Linked DNA regions of Homo sapiens: region 1 is reported to be linked to region 2. Evidence: microRNA targets listed by miRTarBase, many of them from high-throughput screens and not tested one by one. Region 2 holds a microRNA gene; the other region holds the end of a gene's coding sequence.

The links. Region 2 holds the annotated microRNA hsa-miR-7156-5p (UUGUUCUCAAACUGGCUGUCAGA, at 6,578-6,600, opposite strand). A microRNA usually pairs through its seed, bases 2 to 8, with sites in the 3' UTR of a target mRNA and lowers its output. Matches are read on the target gene's strand: a 7mer-m8 pairs with bases 2 to 8, a 7mer-A1 pairs with bases 2 to 7 and ends in A, and an 8mer does both.
Region 1: the mRNA of NCAPG2 is a reported target of hsa-miR-7156-5p. The part of its 3' UTR that is shown has no 7-base or 8-base seed match.

What each region holds. Positions count from the first base shown.
Region 1 is chr7:158,624,153-158,634,397 of GRCh38, forward strand. It overlaps NCAPG2 (non-SMC condensin II complex subunit G2), which reads right to left. Exons shown (of 28, transcript NM_017760.7): 28 at 7,017-7,565. The coding sequence ends at 7,514. Among named protein-coding and RNA genes, the nearest start is that of MIR5707, 38 kb to the left of the region's middle.
Region 2 is chr1:77,057,053-77,066,742 of GRCh38, reverse strand. MIR7156 (microRNA 7156) reads right to left here and starts at 6,600; the gene lies at 6,541-6,600. It overlaps ST6GALNAC5 (ST6 N-acetylgalactosaminide alpha-2,6-sialyltransferase 5), which reads right to left. Exons shown (of 5, transcript NM_030965.3): 5 at 1-3,768. The coding sequence ends at 3,537.

The sequences.
Region 1 (10,245 bases), not on the chromosome of region 2:
ACCCGTCTTTTTTTTTTTTTTTTGAGACAAAGTTTCGCTCTTGTCACTCAGGCTGGAGTGCAACGGAGCGATCTTGGCTCACTGCAACCTCCGCCTCCTGGGTTCAAGTGATTCTCCTGCCTCAGCCTCCCGGGTAGCTGGGATTACAGGCACCCGCCACCACACCTGGCTAATTTTTGTATTTTAGTAAAGACGAGGTTTCAACATGTTGACCAGGCTGTTCTTGAACTCCTGACCTCAGGTAATCCACCTGCCTTGGCCTCCTGAAGAGCTGGGATTACAGGCGTGAGCCACCACGCCCGGCCCAAATCCCTGTCTTTACAAAAAAAAAAAAAAAAAAAAAAGCCAGATGTGGTGGTACATGCCAGTAGCTCTAGCTGCTTGGGAGGCTGAGGCAGGAGGACTACTTGAGCCCAGGAGGTCAAGGTTGCAGTGAGCCATGATTGAGCCTGGGTGACAGAGCAAGACACTGTCTTTAAAATTTTTTAAACCTTCAAAAATGAAGGCAAAATACTCTTCCAGATAATCAAAAGCCGAGAAAACTCATAACTAGCAGATATATGCTAAAGAGATATTAAAGAAAGCTCTTTAAAAGAAAGAAAATGACACCATATGGAAATCTGAAACTGCACAAAGGAAAGAACATTGCCAGAAATAGTGAATACGTGGATAAACTTAAAAGACAATTTTCTCTCATGTTTAAATCTTTTAAAAAGTTAATTAACAGTTTAAAACAAAAATAATGACAATGAATTTTGGGAATAACATATGTAGAAGTAAAATGTATGACAATGATAGCACAGCGAACAGAAGGTGGAGGTAAGCTGCTAAGTTTGTGTGCAACTCATGAAGGGATACAGTATTTTTTGAAGGTAGATATGTTAGTTAATAGATGTGGGCCAGGCGCGGTGGATCATGCTGGTAACCCCAGCACCTTGGGAGGCCGAGGCAGGCAGATCATGAGGTCAGGAGTTCGAGACCAGCCTGGCCAAAATAGTGAAACCCCATCTCTACTAAAAATACAAAAAAATTAGCCAGGCATGGTGGCAGGCAGCTGTAATCCCAGCTACTCGAGAGGTTGAGGCAAGAGAATCGCTTGAACCCAGAAGGCGGAGGTTGCAGTGAGCCAAGATCACCCACTGCAATCCAGCCCAGACGACAGTGTGAGACTCCATCTCAAAAAAAAAAAAAAATGCATAAAAAGGATTTGACAAAATTTTAACACCTACTCACGGAAAAAAATTCTCAGAAAACTAGGAATAGAAAGGCACTTCCTCATCCTGATAAAATGCATCTATAAACAACCTACAGTTTATTGAGCTGTGGAAGACTGAATGCTGTGCTGTGGAGACCAGAACAAGGCGAGAGTGCCTGCTCACACCACTTCCAGGCTACATTTTACTGGAGGTTCTCACCGGCACAAAAAGGAAAAGCAATAAAAGCATCCAGACTGGAAAGGAAGATGTAAATGGCATTTATTTTTAGATAACCTGATCGTCTGAGTAGAAAATATGACAGAGCCTATAAATAAACTACCACAAGTCATCAATGAGCTTAGAAAAGTAGAATACAAAGTCAACATACAAAAAGAAACTGCCTTCCTCTATTCCAGTATAAACAATTAGAAGTTGAAAATTTAAAAATACTACCATTTACAACAGCTCTATAAAACACAAAATACGTAGGGATAAATTTAATAAAACATATGGAAGACCTATATCATGAAAATGACAAAATATTGGGAGAAATTAAATGTCTGAAAAACTAGACAATGGTCATGGATCAGACGACTCAACACTGTTGAGTGTCAATTCTCCCTCTGCCCGAAGAGCTTAGCAGCCTAGCAGCCTAGCCTCAAACTGTGTTTCAAACTGTTTTTTCTTTTCCTTTTCCTCTTCCCCTTCCCAGTCTCAAGATAAAACTTTGAGACAAACTGCATATGTGTTACCTTTCATCTCGAAATACAGCCTTGGAATGTGCTGCGAACCTCCACTCCCTTTCATTTTTATTTTTGGAAACAGTCTCGCTCTGTCGCCCAGGCTGGAGTACAGTGGTGCAATCTCCGCTCACTGCAACCACCACCCCCTGGGTTCCAGTGATTCTCCTGCCTCAGACTCCCAAGTAGCTGGGATTACAGGCGTGTGCCACCACGCCTGGCTAATTTTTTGTATTTTTAGTAGAGATGGGGTTTCACCATGTTGGCCAGGCTGGTCTGGAACTCCTGACCTCAGGCAATCCACCCACCTCAGCCTCCCGAAGTGCTGGGATTACAGTCGTGAGCCACCGAACCCGGGCCCTCCACTCTTCTTTCTTTTCCCACTGTATGCTCCCATGCTTTATGCACATGTATTTACCCAGATACTAGTTAAGCACACACCATGCTCTCTTATCTGGCCATTTATTTGCTTAGAAGCTTCAGGGGTCGGGTCCTAAAAGGGACTAGGCAACTCCGGAATTCTCTTTCCAACAAAAGATTATTTCAAGGCCAGAACCCTCTCCTGGCTGAAGAGTGACTACAAGATTGACTGTGATTAATTTATAACCTGGTAGGATGCACAATGGTGCCGGCCCCTTCACCAAATGGGACAATAATTCAAGAAGGGCCACTGAAGCAAGTCACGCCACCTGGCACCTCTTAGTCCCCCTTGCCTCTTCCGCATTCCAAACCCTTTCTGTAAAACCCTGCGTTCCCTCCACAAACTGAAGAGTGGAACTGCTCTTCCCCTTGCCTGCACAAATAATAAAGGAATATCACTCTTTCTCATCATAACTTATTATTTTGCCTTCTTTCCATAAGTGGCCGGACTCTTTTTGCGAGTTAATCCCCAGCTTGATCTGTAAATTTAGTGTAATCACAATCAGAATTGTACTGCATGTTTTCGTCTGTAGAAATTGACAAATTGATTCTACAATGTATATGAAAAGGCAAAGGAGCTAGAAAAGCCAAAACCACATCAAAAAACAGAAAGCCAATTGGGGACTTGCAATTCACAATTTTAAGACACAGGTACGGCTCAAATAAAAAGGACCCTGGGAATTGGCGTAAGGATGGCCATAGCTCAGTGCACAGAAAAGACTCCAGAAAGAGCCCACACAGGTATAGCCAACTGCATCTTGACGAAGATGCAAGGTGATTTCATGGAGGAGGAAAGGGTGCAGGAACAACGGGATAATCATATGGGGAAAAACCAAAAACAACAAACTGAACTTGGACTCCACATCCAAGATTAACTTAAAATGGATTACACACCTAATCATAACAGCTCAAACATACACTTACACAGCAGAGCTTCTCAACATCACACCATTGACCACTGGGCTGGAATGACTCTTTGTTGCAAGGGCTGTCCCGTGCCTCCTACCTGAGGCATTTTGTGGCAACCCAGCCCACCAAGACACCTGTGCCACTGACGGAAAGAGGGGCAAACTCATGCCCAGCTGAGCCCTGCTGGTCTAGATGAAGGGCAGGTCCAGAGATGTGTCATGGAGTTCCTTGATAAAAATATTACCTTCTAATGGTGCAGGGACTACTAGATATCCATATGGCATAAAGAAATAAATAAATCCTTACCTCATACCATACATAAACATTAATTCAAAATGGATCACAGACCTAAACACAAGAGCAGAGCTTTTAGGTTTCGATAAGGAGATAATAAAAGCAGCCACAGACACCAATGTAGAAATAACAGCAAGATTCTCGGCCGGGCGCAGTGGCTCACGCCTGTAATCCCAGCACTTTGGGAGGCCGAGACGGGCGGATCACGAGGTCAGGAGATCGAGACCATCCTGGCTAACACGGTGAAACCCCGTCTCTACTAAAAATACAAAAATTAGCCAGGCATGGTGGCGCGCGCCTGTAGTCCCAGCTACACGGGAGGCTGAGGCAGGAGAATGGCGTGAACCCGGGAGGCGGAGCTTGCAGTGAGTCGAGATTGCGCCACTGCACTCCAGCCTGGGTGACAGAGCGAAACTCTGTCTCAAAAAAAAAAAAAAAAAAGATTCTCATCAGTTAACTATGCAAGCCAAAATAAAACATGTTATTTCATACAGGACAACAAATAAACATGGTTTTTTACATGTCTTTTTATATAGAACACAAAAAGCACAAACTACAAGAGTATAATTGATAAACAGGACTTCTTCAAAATTAAAATTTCCTATTTGAAAGACACCATTTTAAAAAATTAAAATAGGGCCAGGTGCGATGGCTCACACCTGTAATCCCAGCACAGAGGTCAGGAGTTTGAGACTAGCCTGGCCAACATGGTGAAACCCCATCTCTACTAAAAATACACACACACACAAAATTAGCCAGGCATGGTGACATGCACCTGTAATCCCAGCTATTCGGGAGGCTGAGACAGGAGGACTGCATGAACCCAGGAGGCAGAGGTTGCAGTGAGCCAAGATCGCACCATTGCACTCCAGCCTGGGTGACAGAGCGAGACTCGGTCTCAAAAATAAAATATAAAATAAAATAAAATAAAAATAGGAGCCACATACTGTAATACCCAACCCTAATAAAAGACTTGTATCCAGAACATCTAAAGAAGGCTTAAAACGCAACAAGACAAACAATGCAATAATACAACAAAAACAGATGAGAGACTTGAGCTGGTATTTCACCAACACAGATACATAAGTGAAGTGTGCAGCATCAGTCCTCGGGCAACACAAATTAAAGACACCATGAGTTACCACTACACAACCAACAGAATGAAGATAAAAACACTGAAAATAACCATTGTAAGGGAGGATGATAGGAATATAAAATGTTACAACAACTATGGAAAACAGTTTGTGAGATTTGTTTAAAAGTTAAATGTAGACTTAACATATTAACCAGAACTTCCACTCCAAGAAACTGACCCAGTGAAACAAGCCCACACAGACTTGTATACATGAAGGTTCCTAGCAACTTTATCTGCAATAGCCAAAGGACCATCAATAAACAGCCAAAGGGGAATCAATAGGTGAGTGGGTAAATAGCCAAACAACCATCAACAGGTGAATGGATAAACAGCCAAATGACCCTCAATAGGTGAATGGCTAAGCCACCACAGTGTGGATGAACCTCAAGACTGTGGCAGTGTGGGGCCAGGTCCCAGCAGCCGTTGTAACAAACGACGCTCAATAGGTGAATGGCTAAGCCACCACAATGTGGATGAATCTCAAGACTGGACAGTGTGGGGCCAGGTCCCAGCAGCCGTTGTAACAAATAACCCTCAATAGGTGAATGGCTAAGCCACCACAGTGTGGATGAACCTCAAGACTGTGACAGTGTGGGGCCGGGTCCCAGCAGCCGTTGTAACAAACTTTAGATGTTTCTGATGCATATTAAAGCCTGAAAACCACTGATCTAGAAAATCAGAATAATTTAAATTACAATTATTACTGTCTTTGGCCACCCAACAGCTATTTATTTTTTTGTTCTGGGATCTCTCCCCTTGAGTCTTGGTGAGTGGTGAAGAATGTCTCCTGATGCAGGGAATATTTAAATGTTTAAAGTGGTGAGTACTTGCCTTCCCGGCCATGCGGCCAGGATTCTGCCAGTCTTTGGCTGAGGAGTGAGTGCCACAGCAGGGGTAGGGCAGCTCCCAACCTCTCCCTACCCCTCTAACTGGGTGCAGAAGTAACATTGGTGTTGGAACATTGCAGGTGAATTCTGGGAGCAGAAGTGCTAATTAAAATGTCAAGTGCCCGGTGGCAATCACAGGGATTCATCCTCAGACTAGCTTTGAGTTATGGCTTTCAACTGTCAAGACTGAGTTCTCCCAAAGACACTGGGGGCTTAAACAATGTCGGCTCAGGAATGTAGCTCAAAACTGTAGATCCTCACAGTCCAACATGGCAGTGAGAGCTCCATCCATCACAACCCCATTCCAGGCAGAATGTAAGAAAGGTAAAGATACACAGATAACTTGTAAGGTGCCCATGACAACTTCACTATTATCTTACTGGAAGCACCTGGACACATGCCCACATGTAGGTGCAAGCAATGTTGGTGAATGTGGTCTTTATTCAGGAGGGGCACGTACCCAGAGACAAAATCAGAGATAGTATTTCTGTGGAAAAAGAGGAGAATAAATAACAGGGGAGAGACCAGCAATCTCTCCCTCACATACTCAAGTCGCCAGTCTTAGATCTGCACTAACCCTTCCAAATAAACGACTCTATCTGATAGAACTATATTTCCGTTATCAATGTCACTCACTAATTCAGAATACGGTTTAGTCAGCCAGGATGTCTAGAAAGTCATATTTTCAAAATTATCTGAATTAAGCTGTAATATTATTCCACTCCCCACCTTCCATTTCTCAGATCCCTTGGCAAAACCTTACCCTGAATGCTCATAACTACAGTAAGTAGTCCACTTCTTGTACCGTCTCAGAGAAATACAGGCACAGAAACACTGGAATTTCTTTACTTTTTTGCTCAGGGGCTGAGGACAGAACAAGCACAAAATTTAAGCTGCACTAATTTCCAACCAACTATGAGGTGGTCCACAAGGGCCCACAGGATCAACCGTGACACAGAATCTTTGACTAAGAGGGCCAGGAGCATGGGGCCATGAAACAACTGGCATCCACCAGGTGGGCGAGAGGTCAGGGCAGCCTAGGAGGCTGTCAGCACCACTGCTACCAGAACAGCTCTCAGAAAGAAAAGACCAGAGTAACAGTGTTTGCCTTTAGGCTGAGCTACTTGGTGTCTGTGCTGCTCACGTTCACAGCCACAGGACCCATCCCAATACCCATAGAGGCAACATGAAGGTTGGACCCAGAGACTGCTGTGGGCCCTGCCCTGGGCTCTCCACTCAGGGAGTATCACAGCACCTCACTCCTGGCCATAAAGGTAATACTTTCTCTTTTTTTTTTTTGAGACAGAGTCTTGCTCTGTCGCCCAGGCTGGGGTGCAGTGACGCGACGTCAGCTCACTGCAACCTCTGCTTCCTGAGTAGCTGGGATTACAGGCATTCACCACCACACCCAGCTAATTTTGTATTTTTGGTAGAGACGGGGTTTCACCATGTTGTCTAGGCTGGTCTTGAACTCCTGACCTCAAGTGATCTATCTGCCTGCCTCAGCCTCCCAAAGTGCTGGGATTACAGGCGTGTGCCACTGCGCCGGGCCCCTAATACTTTCAAATAAACAAATGGATGTTGTCATTGCTTTATTACTCATAGTTTCCAAGCAATATTACATATATAAAAGTCATTTTAAAAACAACCAGGTTTGCTAGAAAAGTGTTTTTTCTTGGAATCATGGATTTCTACACCATTCATACCTGGAGTCCTTTATATTAAATATATTATTTACGCAGGCACTAGGCAAAATTGAAGAAGTTTTGAGTTATCTCCTCCATAACCCCCACCTTCCCACATTCCCACAAAAAAATCCCACCCTTTCCCTATTATATGGGTTATTAACATTAAAAACAATAGGAAAATACACAGGCATTTCAATTTGAATCACTTTTCCCTATTTTTACATGTCTGGAGATGTTGGCTTGGTTATGAATTCAAAAGTTCTCCCAGAGTTCTTGATGATGATTCATAGAGAAATCTGAAACACAAATAAAGAAATATTTAGCTACAGAAAAAAGTGACCAAATTATCCAAATGTACATTTTCAAAAATATAATCTAAAAATGGTTTGCAACCATGCATTTAAAAACAAAGTTGAAATAATCTATAGATGTTTCATTAATTGTTTCTTGTATGTAAAATGGAGTCAGAATCCCCACAGCAGTCAGGACACATGGCACTGGAGCACAGGCTTGGGTTGACCGTGGACACCAAGCACTGCCAGGCAATGAAACGTGCTCACTGGGCAGTGTGCTATGCTGGTGAGCAAACAGGACGTGTGCTCTTCCTTTCCAGCACCCACAGTTCTGAGCCTATTTCTCTATTACACAAGAAAACAAGATAAATAAAAACTATGTGACCTACCAAGATACTCTACTACCATGACATTTACCTACTACCTCTAATAACCTGAAGCCTTTAGAAAAACCTCACTTTCCCACTCCCCTGCCCTACATCCCTGTCCCTCAAGGCGAGACTCTTCCTCCTCACGTCCTCCCCAGCCCCACCTAGGCCGCGGCTTTGGCTGAGAGCACTGAGTACTTTTCCTTGCCAGACGTTGTCCTCACTTCCCTGGCAGTGTGCCTATTTTAAGAATCATTATTAGACAGGTAGCATATCACTGTTCCTTCAAATACACATATTTACAAAGTGCGTGGCTCACCATGGCTTCCCTTTTTACTGTCCCACAACTCCTGCATGGCTCCAATGCTTGTTCCATTACAGGGCACTCCAAAGCAGTCTCCTCAGAGAAGCAATAAAGAAAAGCTCATCTCTGAATTCCTCCTGGACACAAATATCTACCTTTCACTCCAAATGAATCTCAGCGAGATTTAAAACTCTTACAATCCTATTGTCTTCCTGTGTCCAGCACTGCAAGTGAGACTCATGTCTACCTGGTCTTCACCTTTGGAGACAGACTGCTGTCTACCACAGCCCCTGTAATGTCAATGCCAGTCACATGCGTCATTTTACATTTTCCAGTAATCACATTGAAACAGGTCAAAGGGTACAATGGATCAAGACCTTGCTTCTTTTTATTTTTTTAAGCAAAATTCATCTTAATATATTTTATTTAACCCAACATATCCAAAATGCTTCAACTTGTAATCAATATAAAATTATTTATGACATAGTTCACATTCTCTTTTCCATACTGTCTTCAAAACCTGCTTGCACTTTCTATGAGGGCCACACTCAGCTTAGACTCACCAGGTTTCATGTGTTCAGCAGCCACTGTATTGGCCTGCATGAATCTAGAAAAATTTTAAGATTTTCTCTTTATTCCTGGAATTTAGGAATCTTATCCATAATTATTTAGCTGTGATTTTTTTTTTCCATCAATCCAGAATGTAGTGAAAGAAAAAAGGGAATCTGCATATATTTCTTTAAGCTCTGGGGAATTTTTTCCTATCGTTGTTGAATCACTGCTTCTCCTTGCTGTTAGGTCTCTCGGGCCTTTTCCCCCAAGTCTATCCCCACCCTCGTGACCTCTCCTCGTGAGTATTTATGGTCTATGTTCTGAGACATCTCTCCAAATTGACCTTTCTGGAATTTGACTATCACAGGAACCATCTCTGTAGTGTGTCTGTGACACTTGAGCTCTAGACTGTCCTTTCGGGGTTACAGTTGACTCTTCTTCAAAGACTCTTATTACTCACCCACCACTATCACTCTGGAAGCGCCTGGGCCACCCTCTGTGTGGTTATTTCTGCCTGTGTTGAACCAGGGGTGAGGGCACAGCTATGTGGAGGCTGCCATGCAGCGACACAGGAGACTCTGGGTGCCCCACAGCCCCTTCACTCTCCCAGCCTCGCTGGGCCTCTACTGGACCTGCTGCCTCAGGGTCTCCTGCCCATTCCCTGAGTCCCCCAAGGAGAAGAGAGTGCTCTCTGTCCACAGACCAGGTTCCGCCCACCTGTCAGCCCAGCAACTGCCTGGCTCAGCAGCAGTGCAGCCAGAGGCAAGACAGAGGAGAACAGGCCCAGGAAGTCATGAACCCTCCAAAATCTAAAATTAATTTTTTTTTTTGAGACAGGGTCACGCTCTGTCACCCAGGCTGAAGTGCAGCAGTGAGGTCACAGCTCACTGCAGCCTTGACCTCTCGGGCTCAAGCAATCCTCCCAGCTCACCCTCCCAAGTAGCTGGGACTATGGTGCACACCACCACACCCAGCAGATTTTTTTGTATTTTTTGTAGAGATGGGGTTTCACCATGTTACCCAGTCTAGTAGTGAACTCAGCTTAAGCAATCTGCCCGCCTCAGCCTCCCAAAGTGATGGAATTACAGACACCATACCTGGCCTAAAATTAATTTTTAATTACTCAAAAATAATATTGTCTCCTTAAGTGAACATGAATTTAAAAATACTTTAGAGAAAAATGTTACGTTAAAAGTACAGTTAACCCTCACTATCTGTGGGAGATGTGTTCCAGGACCCCCCAGATACTAAAATCCACAGATGTTCAAGTCCCTGGTATAGTGTTTGCATATAGTCTACCCACATCCTCCTGTATGCTTTAAATCATCTCTAGACTACTTATAATACCTAATACAAGGTAAATGCTATGGTAATAATTGTTATACTATATTGTCTATATACTATATCGTCTATATTGTTATACTATACTAATAGTTGTTATACTATATACTATATTGTT
Region 2 (9,690 bases):
TACAAAACATGTAGAGTGTTAACATCACCTCCCAACACTGCAGAGAGAGAATAGGAACATGGACCCTTCTTTCAGAGTAGGTTTATTTAACAATTTGAACCATCACCCTGGTGGAATTCAGGATATATTTCTGAAATGAGTTTGCTCTTACACAAGGGCAAATATTTAGGCAGGTACTAAATGGGTGCATGTGCCTTTAAATAACACTGTCTTAATCCTAATAGAATTTCAACTTTCTCCTTCTACTTTTACTTAGCATTTATCATCTTCTAAGTCGGTAATTTTAATTTTTGAGGGGAGTTTTTATTTCAAAATGAGATTATTTCCCTCCATTCTCATGTCATTCAAATAGATCAGTAATGGAGAGAACTTCAGAAAACAAAGGATACACAAATCTGGTAGTAACCTAAGGATTGTGAGAGACCACACAAATTTCTCTTTTAGGTACAATACGTTGTGTTTTGCTTTCATCTATTTTTTTTTTTAAAGAAAAGATCTTACTCTGAAATCTGATGACCTCAGAAGTCTCTGAATTGCTCAGGTTTTATGTGTAGCCCTTAGGAGTACACACCAGGGTTAGCAAAGCACAGGGACTTAGTTGCCAAATGCCCATTAACGGTAATGGAAATCACACAGCTAAGTCTCCATGCAGCATGCTGAATATTTACCTCCTAATGTTCTTTTAATGTATGCTTTCTTGGGTGAATATTTACCGTAGAATATTAAATCTGAGATTCCTCCTTTTATGGGCCATTTGAAGTGATTGATTTTGTTTGCAAATTCCCGTATCTTTGCCCATAATGGCTATCTATTGTAATGGCCTCTGCCAAATGTTCTTGTGTTGAAATAACAGAAGCCATGGATCGACCAGCTGTGGCATTGTATTACTGTGGTCTTAAAAGCTAGGAGGGAGCTGATGACACAGCTGGGAGAGAGGAAAAAGGCATGTAACATAACGAGTATGACTTAGGCATCAAACACAATCAGATACTGAAATCACCGAGGTCTATAAACATGGTTCTGTAGTCATCTTTTATATCAGAGTTTATATTTAATGGTGTTGAATAGTGTTCAGACGACAGTCATGAAATGGTAGTGGGAAGACAAGAATTCAATTGCCCACAACCAGGTTCATCAGCACAATCTATCAGAATTCTAGTCATTTTCTTTAACGCTGTAATAAAACCACTTTGCAAGTGGTAATTTTTTACACTTATTTACACCACATTTTTAAAAAATATGAAATCACATATCCTAGCTACATGTAGATTTAAAACATTTCCCAGTGAAGCCATGATTTTCTGAATTTGGCCTCTTCATTCTTCTGAGTATTTGAGAGGGAGAAGTTACAAACGAGATGGAGCTACCATGATGGTTTTTTTAATAAAGAAAATCTAAAATCTGAAGATAGACAGATATGTGAGATATTATTAGATGAAGCAATATAATTACATTCTTGCATGTTGAAACTATGCCTTTCCAAATTTCCACAAATATAGAAATTGCCAAAGGAGCCACTTATGTTTGAGCAACATAACGTCTTCAAGTGATTATAAAGGTGGCCTATAAGTAAATTGTATAAAATTAATACACTTTTTCATATGTTGATAAAGTATGATGTGTTCAGAGTCCATGCTGTGGAAGACAATGTGTTGGAATAAAATTCATAGTCCCTTTAAAAACTATGAGAAAACTTAAAGAACATATTCCAGTATGTTTTGGACGGCCATTTCAATCTTACTGGCTTTGAACAGCCCAAGCCATACACATCAATATCAACTTTGTTTATGTTATGTGAGTACCCTGATTGTGTTTGCATTTTAACAACAATACTCCGTGTAATTAATAGTACTAGTTAGTGTACTAATTAAGAAAAGGGAAAAGAAGTGGTAATGCGATAAAACTTCTTTTATCATAAGCCAGGTCATGTCTGTAAAACAATGTCAGTCTTCATACATAATATTTGCTGGTGCCTTCAAATTTGGCATTAGAGAAACTAATGCCTTCTAAGTCATGTGTAAAGAAAACACTAGTATATTTATAAGAGACTATTTTTGAACAATATTACTTGTTTAAATAAAAATCTATAATATGAATTTATCTTGGCTCTGAATAAAATAAGTCCTTTATACTCCTTCAGACCAGGGAATGGTAATGAATATAATCTAAGAAGATTTGTAGTGAGTCTAAACAGTTCATAGCATAAATGAGTTGAATGATAGGGCATGTCCTTGTAGTCTCTTTTCCTCACAGAAGGGCAGCTGTTTGCTATTGTAGCCAGGGAACCCCTTGGAGCTATGTCTTTTGTGTGTGTGTGTGTGTGTGTATCCTGTGTTTTTGTGTTGAGAGGCTGGGGAAGAGGCGGATGGTGATGCTTCGAGAGAAGCAGGGGGTAGATTTTAGCCCATGTGGACACAGGAAGAAGTGTAGTTTTAACCACAAGAGTGATATAAGTAATATGAATGTAGATAAGGCTCCCCAAAATAAAGTTCCTGCTACTGTTGGGGCCCCATCACTCCAAGTGCAGAGTCTTCAAATGGGTCAAGAAGAGGCCACAAGTTTAGATTTGGGATGAAACCTAAGAGGTTGTCTGGTACAGTGACATCATTCTGCCAAAAAGGAAACTAGGGCTCAAGAGAGGACACTTACATAAATTATTACTAAAGAAAACTACCTTTAAATTTCTCTTGTTAGCATTTTTTTGTTTTAATAACATAGTTTTTGGTTTTCAATTTTGTCCTTTTGGAACATTTCTGCACATTAGAAAATGTCATCGCTATTCTTTTTACAAAAGAGCAGTTTTCCTGAAGCCTAGGGGTTCAAAAAATACAACACAACACTTCCAAGTCAAATACCAATTGCATGCTAACAATGAGCATTGTGAACAGAGTAACCTAATTCTAGGCCATTTCCAACCATCATTCAGGATTAAAGAGTTAGGAAGGATAAATTACCACATAATCATAATCTATAAAAATACTGGCCCAGATTGCACTAAAAAACTCTCAATAAATAAATATTGGACATTTGCTTTATGAAAGTCAGTGGAGATGTGCTCTTCAGAAATCATGTCCATAGTTTCAGCCTGCTTTTTACAAATCACACATACAGAGTCTAACAGATGACAAAGGTTATAGAACAGGAAAGAATACAACTTGATAGAAAAACGTCTTTGACATGGTATGTCTATAAAGGAATGCAACTAATATTGTTGAGTTGCTTATGTTGCAGTTTCAAAGGCAATACTAAGAGATCCAAACTGTTTTTAGTCATAGTGGTGTAACTGAATTGAATGTTCAGCTCCTAAGGTAACACCATTGAAGGGGACAACATTCATTAGGATGCATTAATTCCGGAATTTTTCCTTACAATCCAACTGCACTGCTTTGTCACCCCTGGTAGGCGTCTGTCCATGGTACTTCCTGAGGAGTGAAGCTGTTTTCTGCTACCCTTTCCTGTCTGGTGGCTCAGGAAGTTCAGTGTCTCGGTGTCTGATGCAGTGAATACCTGGGATTACAGTCTGGCATGCTCATTCCTTAGAACACAGGTTTATTCTCAGGATGATTTATAGCAAGTGATTCTGGTTTCCAGTCTGGTTGAAAAAAGTGAATATTGAATGTCCGTGCCCAGTTCTTAAAGACTCGTTTCTCTGTGATAAAGCGGTGATGACTGCCCTTGCGTCCTCGCTCATGGGAGAGGTACATTGTACATTCATCAGGTCCAAAAGGTTCATAATAATGATAAGGTACTGAAGGGTGATTGGGATCCCTGTAGGAGGAAATTGAGATAACTGATTAAAGCAAAAAAATTTTTTTTCCTTTGACTGATTGAGGTAAGATGTTATCTTTAATAAGCTGATAAAAATTGTATTTTCTAGTTAAATGAGTTTGAACAAATGGTTTTTCTGATTACACAATAAGGAAGTGGAGAGGTTTTGAGGTTGTGAAATAAAATCAGTGCCCATCATTTTCATCAAAGAGATTGAAAATGAGCTGCAGAACATTCAGTCTCCTCAGATTTAGACCCTACATATTAATAAGTCACAACAATAGTATTGTTTTCACTCTTCTTACAGTCTATTTACCATAAGCAGCTGCAGAGATATTACCAAAACAAAATATGTCATTCCCATTCCCCACTCCACTAAGCTTCCAGAGGCTTCCAGTTATACAGAGAGCATGGCTGCTGGGATGCATTATGATGTGGCTCCCCTTCTAAGTCTTCTCCTAATCCACCCAGCCTTGTGGATTCCCAGTATGTTCCCACCATACTGGCCTTTCTGGTCAACTCTACAAAGCTCATCCCTACTTCAGGGCCTTTGCACTTGATGGTGGTCACTTGCCTGGAATACCCTCTCTGAGTTCACTCCTCACCTTTGGGTGTCAGCTCAAGTAATATCCTTCTCTGAGAGGCCTTACCTGACACTTGCTCCCCTCACTTCATCTCACTTGAATTCATTTTCTTTATAGCATCAATTGCTGTCTGGAATTGTTGTTGCTGTTTACTTGTTTATTGGGTGTTCATGAGGGCAGTGTTTTGTCTTATTCCTGGAACAGTCCCTGGTAGGTGCTTAATAAATAATTTTAAAAATTATGTTGTTGAAAGAAATTTATATGGAATTAGCAGCTAAATAGCAAACTTCTAAATTTATATGGAATTAGCAGCTAAACGCAAATTTCTTCTCTGAGTTTGGAAAGTTGATGATCTTAGTTTGATCCTATGGGAGAAAAAGGAAGACAGCAAACAAGAGGCCACGATTTTTCTTTTGATGCTTCAGAGGGCCTATGTACTCAAAGTCTACAGTCTTTTAGTCCAGAAACTCTACATCCTCAGTCCTTGTTTGGTGGCCTGAGAGTCTCCGAGTGTTTTTCTGCCTCTATATCTCTGTCTCAGCCTCAAACAGGAAGTACTGGCTCATTTCTTCAAGATGGTGTGCATAGGATTAACATGTGGGGGTGGTAGGTGCCCTTGTTTGAGGGTTAATAAATATTTACGCACTAAAGAGTCTTGGTCTCAGACTGGTTTCTAAAACAGGCCAGTCTAGCCCACCTCTTCTGTCTTTTGAAGAATGAATGGTAAGATTAGTCAAGGTTTCTTGGCAGACAAACTTTCCTAATTTGAGCTATGCTCAGCAACTGGCCTTGTTGCAGAGACTAAGAAGAGAAAAGGCCCAGGCTTCCCAGCATCTTGCAAATCATCTTTCAGAGCCTGATGCCCTAGGGTTCCCACTTTGGTCACCTGGGCTCTCCTCTAAGTATAATAACTTGGTTTCCCAAAGATGCTCATCCTGCCAGACACCTATTCGTTTTCTTCAGAGGAGATCAATACACAAATAGCTTTTAGAGTAGCAACTCTACTGGGGTCAGGGATCGAAGTCTTTTATCAAGAGGGGTGTCATGTTTTTGGCTCTGACAACAATAAACCTTTGAGCTGTTTCTCCTCTTAGGTTAAAGTTCTTCCAGGAAGAGAGATTTATTTTTGTCATGCAGCATCTAAACATTCCTTATCCTGGTTTGGATGCTATGCTGAATTAACACTTTGCATCTCTAATATGCCCGTCTTGGAATTATCTCTATGTTCTGTAGTGAAACACTGGATCCTTTCCTGACTAGTTATTGCAGATTTTATTAATTTACTTACCCTAGAAATTGGAATCCCATTAAAATTTTAATAGAAGGTGTTTTTAACACAAAAAATGCCTTCTAACAAAAATTCAGGTTGAAGCTGACCACTATGAAGAAAAAAATAAGAATTTGTGAGACATATCTTCCCATATTCATATGGCATAATTTGGGGGAACCATGCCAATTTCATGTTGCCATGGTATGCTTGGGGTTAAGCTTTTATTCCATCACAAATCACTTTAAATTTGATTCATCTAAGTTTTGGACATTTTATTGGCATCAATCTGACTAAAGAAACAGTTAGGTTTCTAAAAATATCATAAGATTGATTCGGCACCTAGGAGTAGGGGGCAATTGGAAACCAGCTAAAGATGCTACAGGATCAATTTCCTTATTCAGGAAGACCATCTCTTTGGAAAAAAAACTTATCTGACTCCATATTGATCCCCTAAAAAGAGAATTAAATTTACATATTTGGTTACTGTGATTTCAGAGGTGTCAAGATAAGTTATTCATGTAAGCGAGTTGTTTCCACATGTTAAAACTCTGTCCAAGCAGCAGAAAAGTGCTTTCTGGGACTCAGAAGGCAGCGCTGGAAACTGCAGGAACATCTACCCCAGCTGTGAGCCTGCCATCAGCTGGAATTCACTAAATTCACTATGCCATTTAGAAAGACACTCCTAGCTGAAGGTCATACTTCCTTGGGTCTTTTCTCAAACCTGACTTTCTAAAGACTGCCCTAGTTTTTTTCTTCCTTCACCTGACCTCAGTGAAAACTACAATAAACCTCAGCGGAATTTCCACATGAGGAAGCAGTTGTAAAAGGAATTCTGGTACTCAAGTTCCCATTGTGGGCCCCGTGAGCTGAAGGAAAGGATATGCGGGCTGGGGAGGCAGGAATGGAGATAACCACAGAACCAGTTCCCCAAGTGGCTGCAGCCTGCCATGCACACTCTGACAGCCAGTTTGAGAACAAGCCCTGCAGAATGATTTGAGGAAGAATTTTTTTTTCTTTTTAGAGGAAGCAGGTGGGGAGAGTGAGGGAACTAACATTTAGTGCGGTTGGGGAGCTTTAAGGAAATACCTATGCTCCAACCCCATAGACTCTGCTTCGGATGACTTGGAGAGGAACTCAGGCACAGGTATTTTAGAAAGTGTCTTAGGTTTGAACCAAAATAAACAATGTCAGTATTGGATTATAAAACCAATAAAATAAAATAAATATCCATGAGTCCATGATAATTTCAATAAATAACTGAATAAATAAACAAATAAATGGAGGAGAAGAAACAGCATTTCAAGACAGAAAAATTCCAATAAACAATGTAGAAAAAATGAGGGACTAGGAAACCATCCTCAGAACGTTGCAGTAATTGTCGCAGGCAAGATGCACCAAATGAACAGAACATTAATGGGGAAAAAGATGAGGAGAAATAGGCTACCTGCATAACCTGAAAGTATCTCTCCCAAGTTATTTATTAATGACAAAGGGAAAAATACTATCTTTACAATAGGTAAACCCAGCAGACATTACCTTAACCAAGTGATGAAGGTTAACATTGCCAGTAATAAGACGTATGGACATCACATACTTCCTGTTATGAGATTCTGGGAAGGGCCTATGGCTTCTGTGGTATCCTTCTCAGTAATGCATAACCTCAATCTAAGCACAGGAAAACATTAGATAAACCCCAAGTGAAGGACATTCTATGAAATACGTGACTAGTCCTCATCAAAAGTGTCATGAAATGCAGGGAAAGCCTGAGGAACGGCCATGGATTTAGAGACTGAGGACACCTGATAAATAAATGCAAAGGGAACCTGGATTCGTTCTTGGAGGACATAAAGGACATTAGTAGAGAAACTGGTAAAATCTCAATAATGCCTGTAGTTTAGCTGAGCATTATACTCATGTTAATTTCTTACTTTTGATAATTGGACCATAGGAATGCAAATCCGCATTAGGGGAAGCTGGATAAAAGTTATATGAACTCTCAGTATTATTTTTGCAACCTTTCTGTAACTCTAAAATTATTTGAAACAAAAATAAACATATTTTTAAATAATACATATCATAACAACAAAGCTTTTTAGAAGATTCAAATGGTGGAAAGCTCCTTGAGATTCTAATATGCAGCTAAGTTTGAGACAACTGATTTTGTAAGTACCTGCTCAGCTTCTGCGCTTAACTGATGTGATCTCCTTTACATCCTCATCAGCCCTCTGAGGCAAGTATTGCAGCTCCCATTTGATAGGGAGCATCTGATACCCAGGGAGACAGTCCACTGCCTGGCTTTCAGCACACAACCTGACTTATTGTCCATCCAAGCTGCTGGACTTGACTATTTCAGCTCAGAACACAGTGCTCAGCACTCCACATACACTCACTTATTTAGTCCTCACAACACCCCTATAAGACAGTGTCAGTCCATTTTGTGTTGCTAGAAAAGAATACCCAAGTCTGGGTAATTTATAAAGAAAAAAGCCTTATTTGGCCCATGATTCTGATGTCTCAAAAAATTCAAGGTTGGGCATCTGGGGAGAGCCCCAGGCTGCTTCCACTCCTAGCAGAAAGTGAAGGGGAGCTGGCATGTGCATAAATCACAAGGCGAGAGAGGAAGAAGAGAAAGGGGGAGGTGCCAGGCTCTTTTTAACAACTAGCTCTGTTGGGGGCAAATAGAGTGAGAACTCACTCATGCCCCGCCCCAGGGAGGGCACTAATCTATTCATGAGGGATCTGCCCCCATGACCCAAACACCTGCCACTAGGCCCCACGTCCAACACTGAGGATCAAATTTCAACATGAGATTTGGTGGGAACAAACAAAACATATCCAAACTATAGCAGAGAGCTACTATTAGCACCCCTACTCTGCAGACGAGGAAACTCATGCACAGAAAAACTGAAGTTTCGCAGCCAAGGTTTGGACCAAAGCCAGTTGACTCCAGTTGACTCTGTACTCTTAAGAGTGAGGTTCTGTGTCTTGGAAAAACTCCTTTCCCCCAGGTGGGGTTTCTGTACTAATGGCACCCAGGTTTCCCTGGGATCAACAGTGTGTGGTTGAAAGCAGCTTGTCCTTGCCGCTTTCCTCCGAGCTCTTGCTACAGAGGAGCCCCATGTGTGGTGCTTGCGAGCTGCTCAGGGTGTTAAACAGAGGCTTTGTGCTCATGTGCAATTCTGCCCATCGGTGCTAATGGCAACAGGGGTTTGTAATGTTCCACTTTTTGACTCTTCTAAAGCTAAGTTTTACAACTGAAAAAAACCTCATAACCCTAACAAGCAAGGGAAGACACTTCCATTTCTGGGTACTGACGAGGTTTAGGACATGTTGCTCCAAAATATGGTACCTTGGCATTTGAGGAAACAACAGAAGCAGGGAGATCACTTTCACCTCCCTTCACTGTTCTCCTCTGATGCAGTTCATAAAAGATTTCTTTGCCCTCGTCTAAAGCAGGTCATAAACTTTCATTCCAGAGGTACCCTCCATATATCCGGAGGAAATGAACATCCTTATCTTCAAAGACAAGGAAATGTCAAAAGAATCTGAACAAACATACCTTGCTACCTCCTCCCACCCACCCTGGTTTATTACCATCAGATCACACCTGCTTTGTCCAATCCTACTTCTTCACAGCTATCCACTTCCTCATCAAGCTTAGCATAAAAATAAGGAGGTCTCCCTGTTTCTTTGGCTCTTCATTTCTGAAGGCTCTGGTGTCACGTAAAATTTATATTAAATAAATGTGTATGCTTTTCTCTTGTTAATCTGTCTTTTTTTCCTAGGAGTCTCAGCAAAGAACCTATGATGGATGAGGAAAAGAAATTACTTTTTCTCTCCTATAGTGTGATCTAGGTTAACCCTGCCCACTGGGTTTGGGGCTGGACTATGCAGAAGGCTGCAAATATCCTGAGGAAAGAATGGTGTCTTTGCCTCTCTCTAGAACTCTTAGACACTCTCTTTAAACACATTTCTATTCTTGGTGCAGTACCTGGCATATAGTAGGTACTCAGGAAATGTTTGAAGAATAGAGAGAATAGAGTTGAATTAATAGCTGTGAAGCTGCTA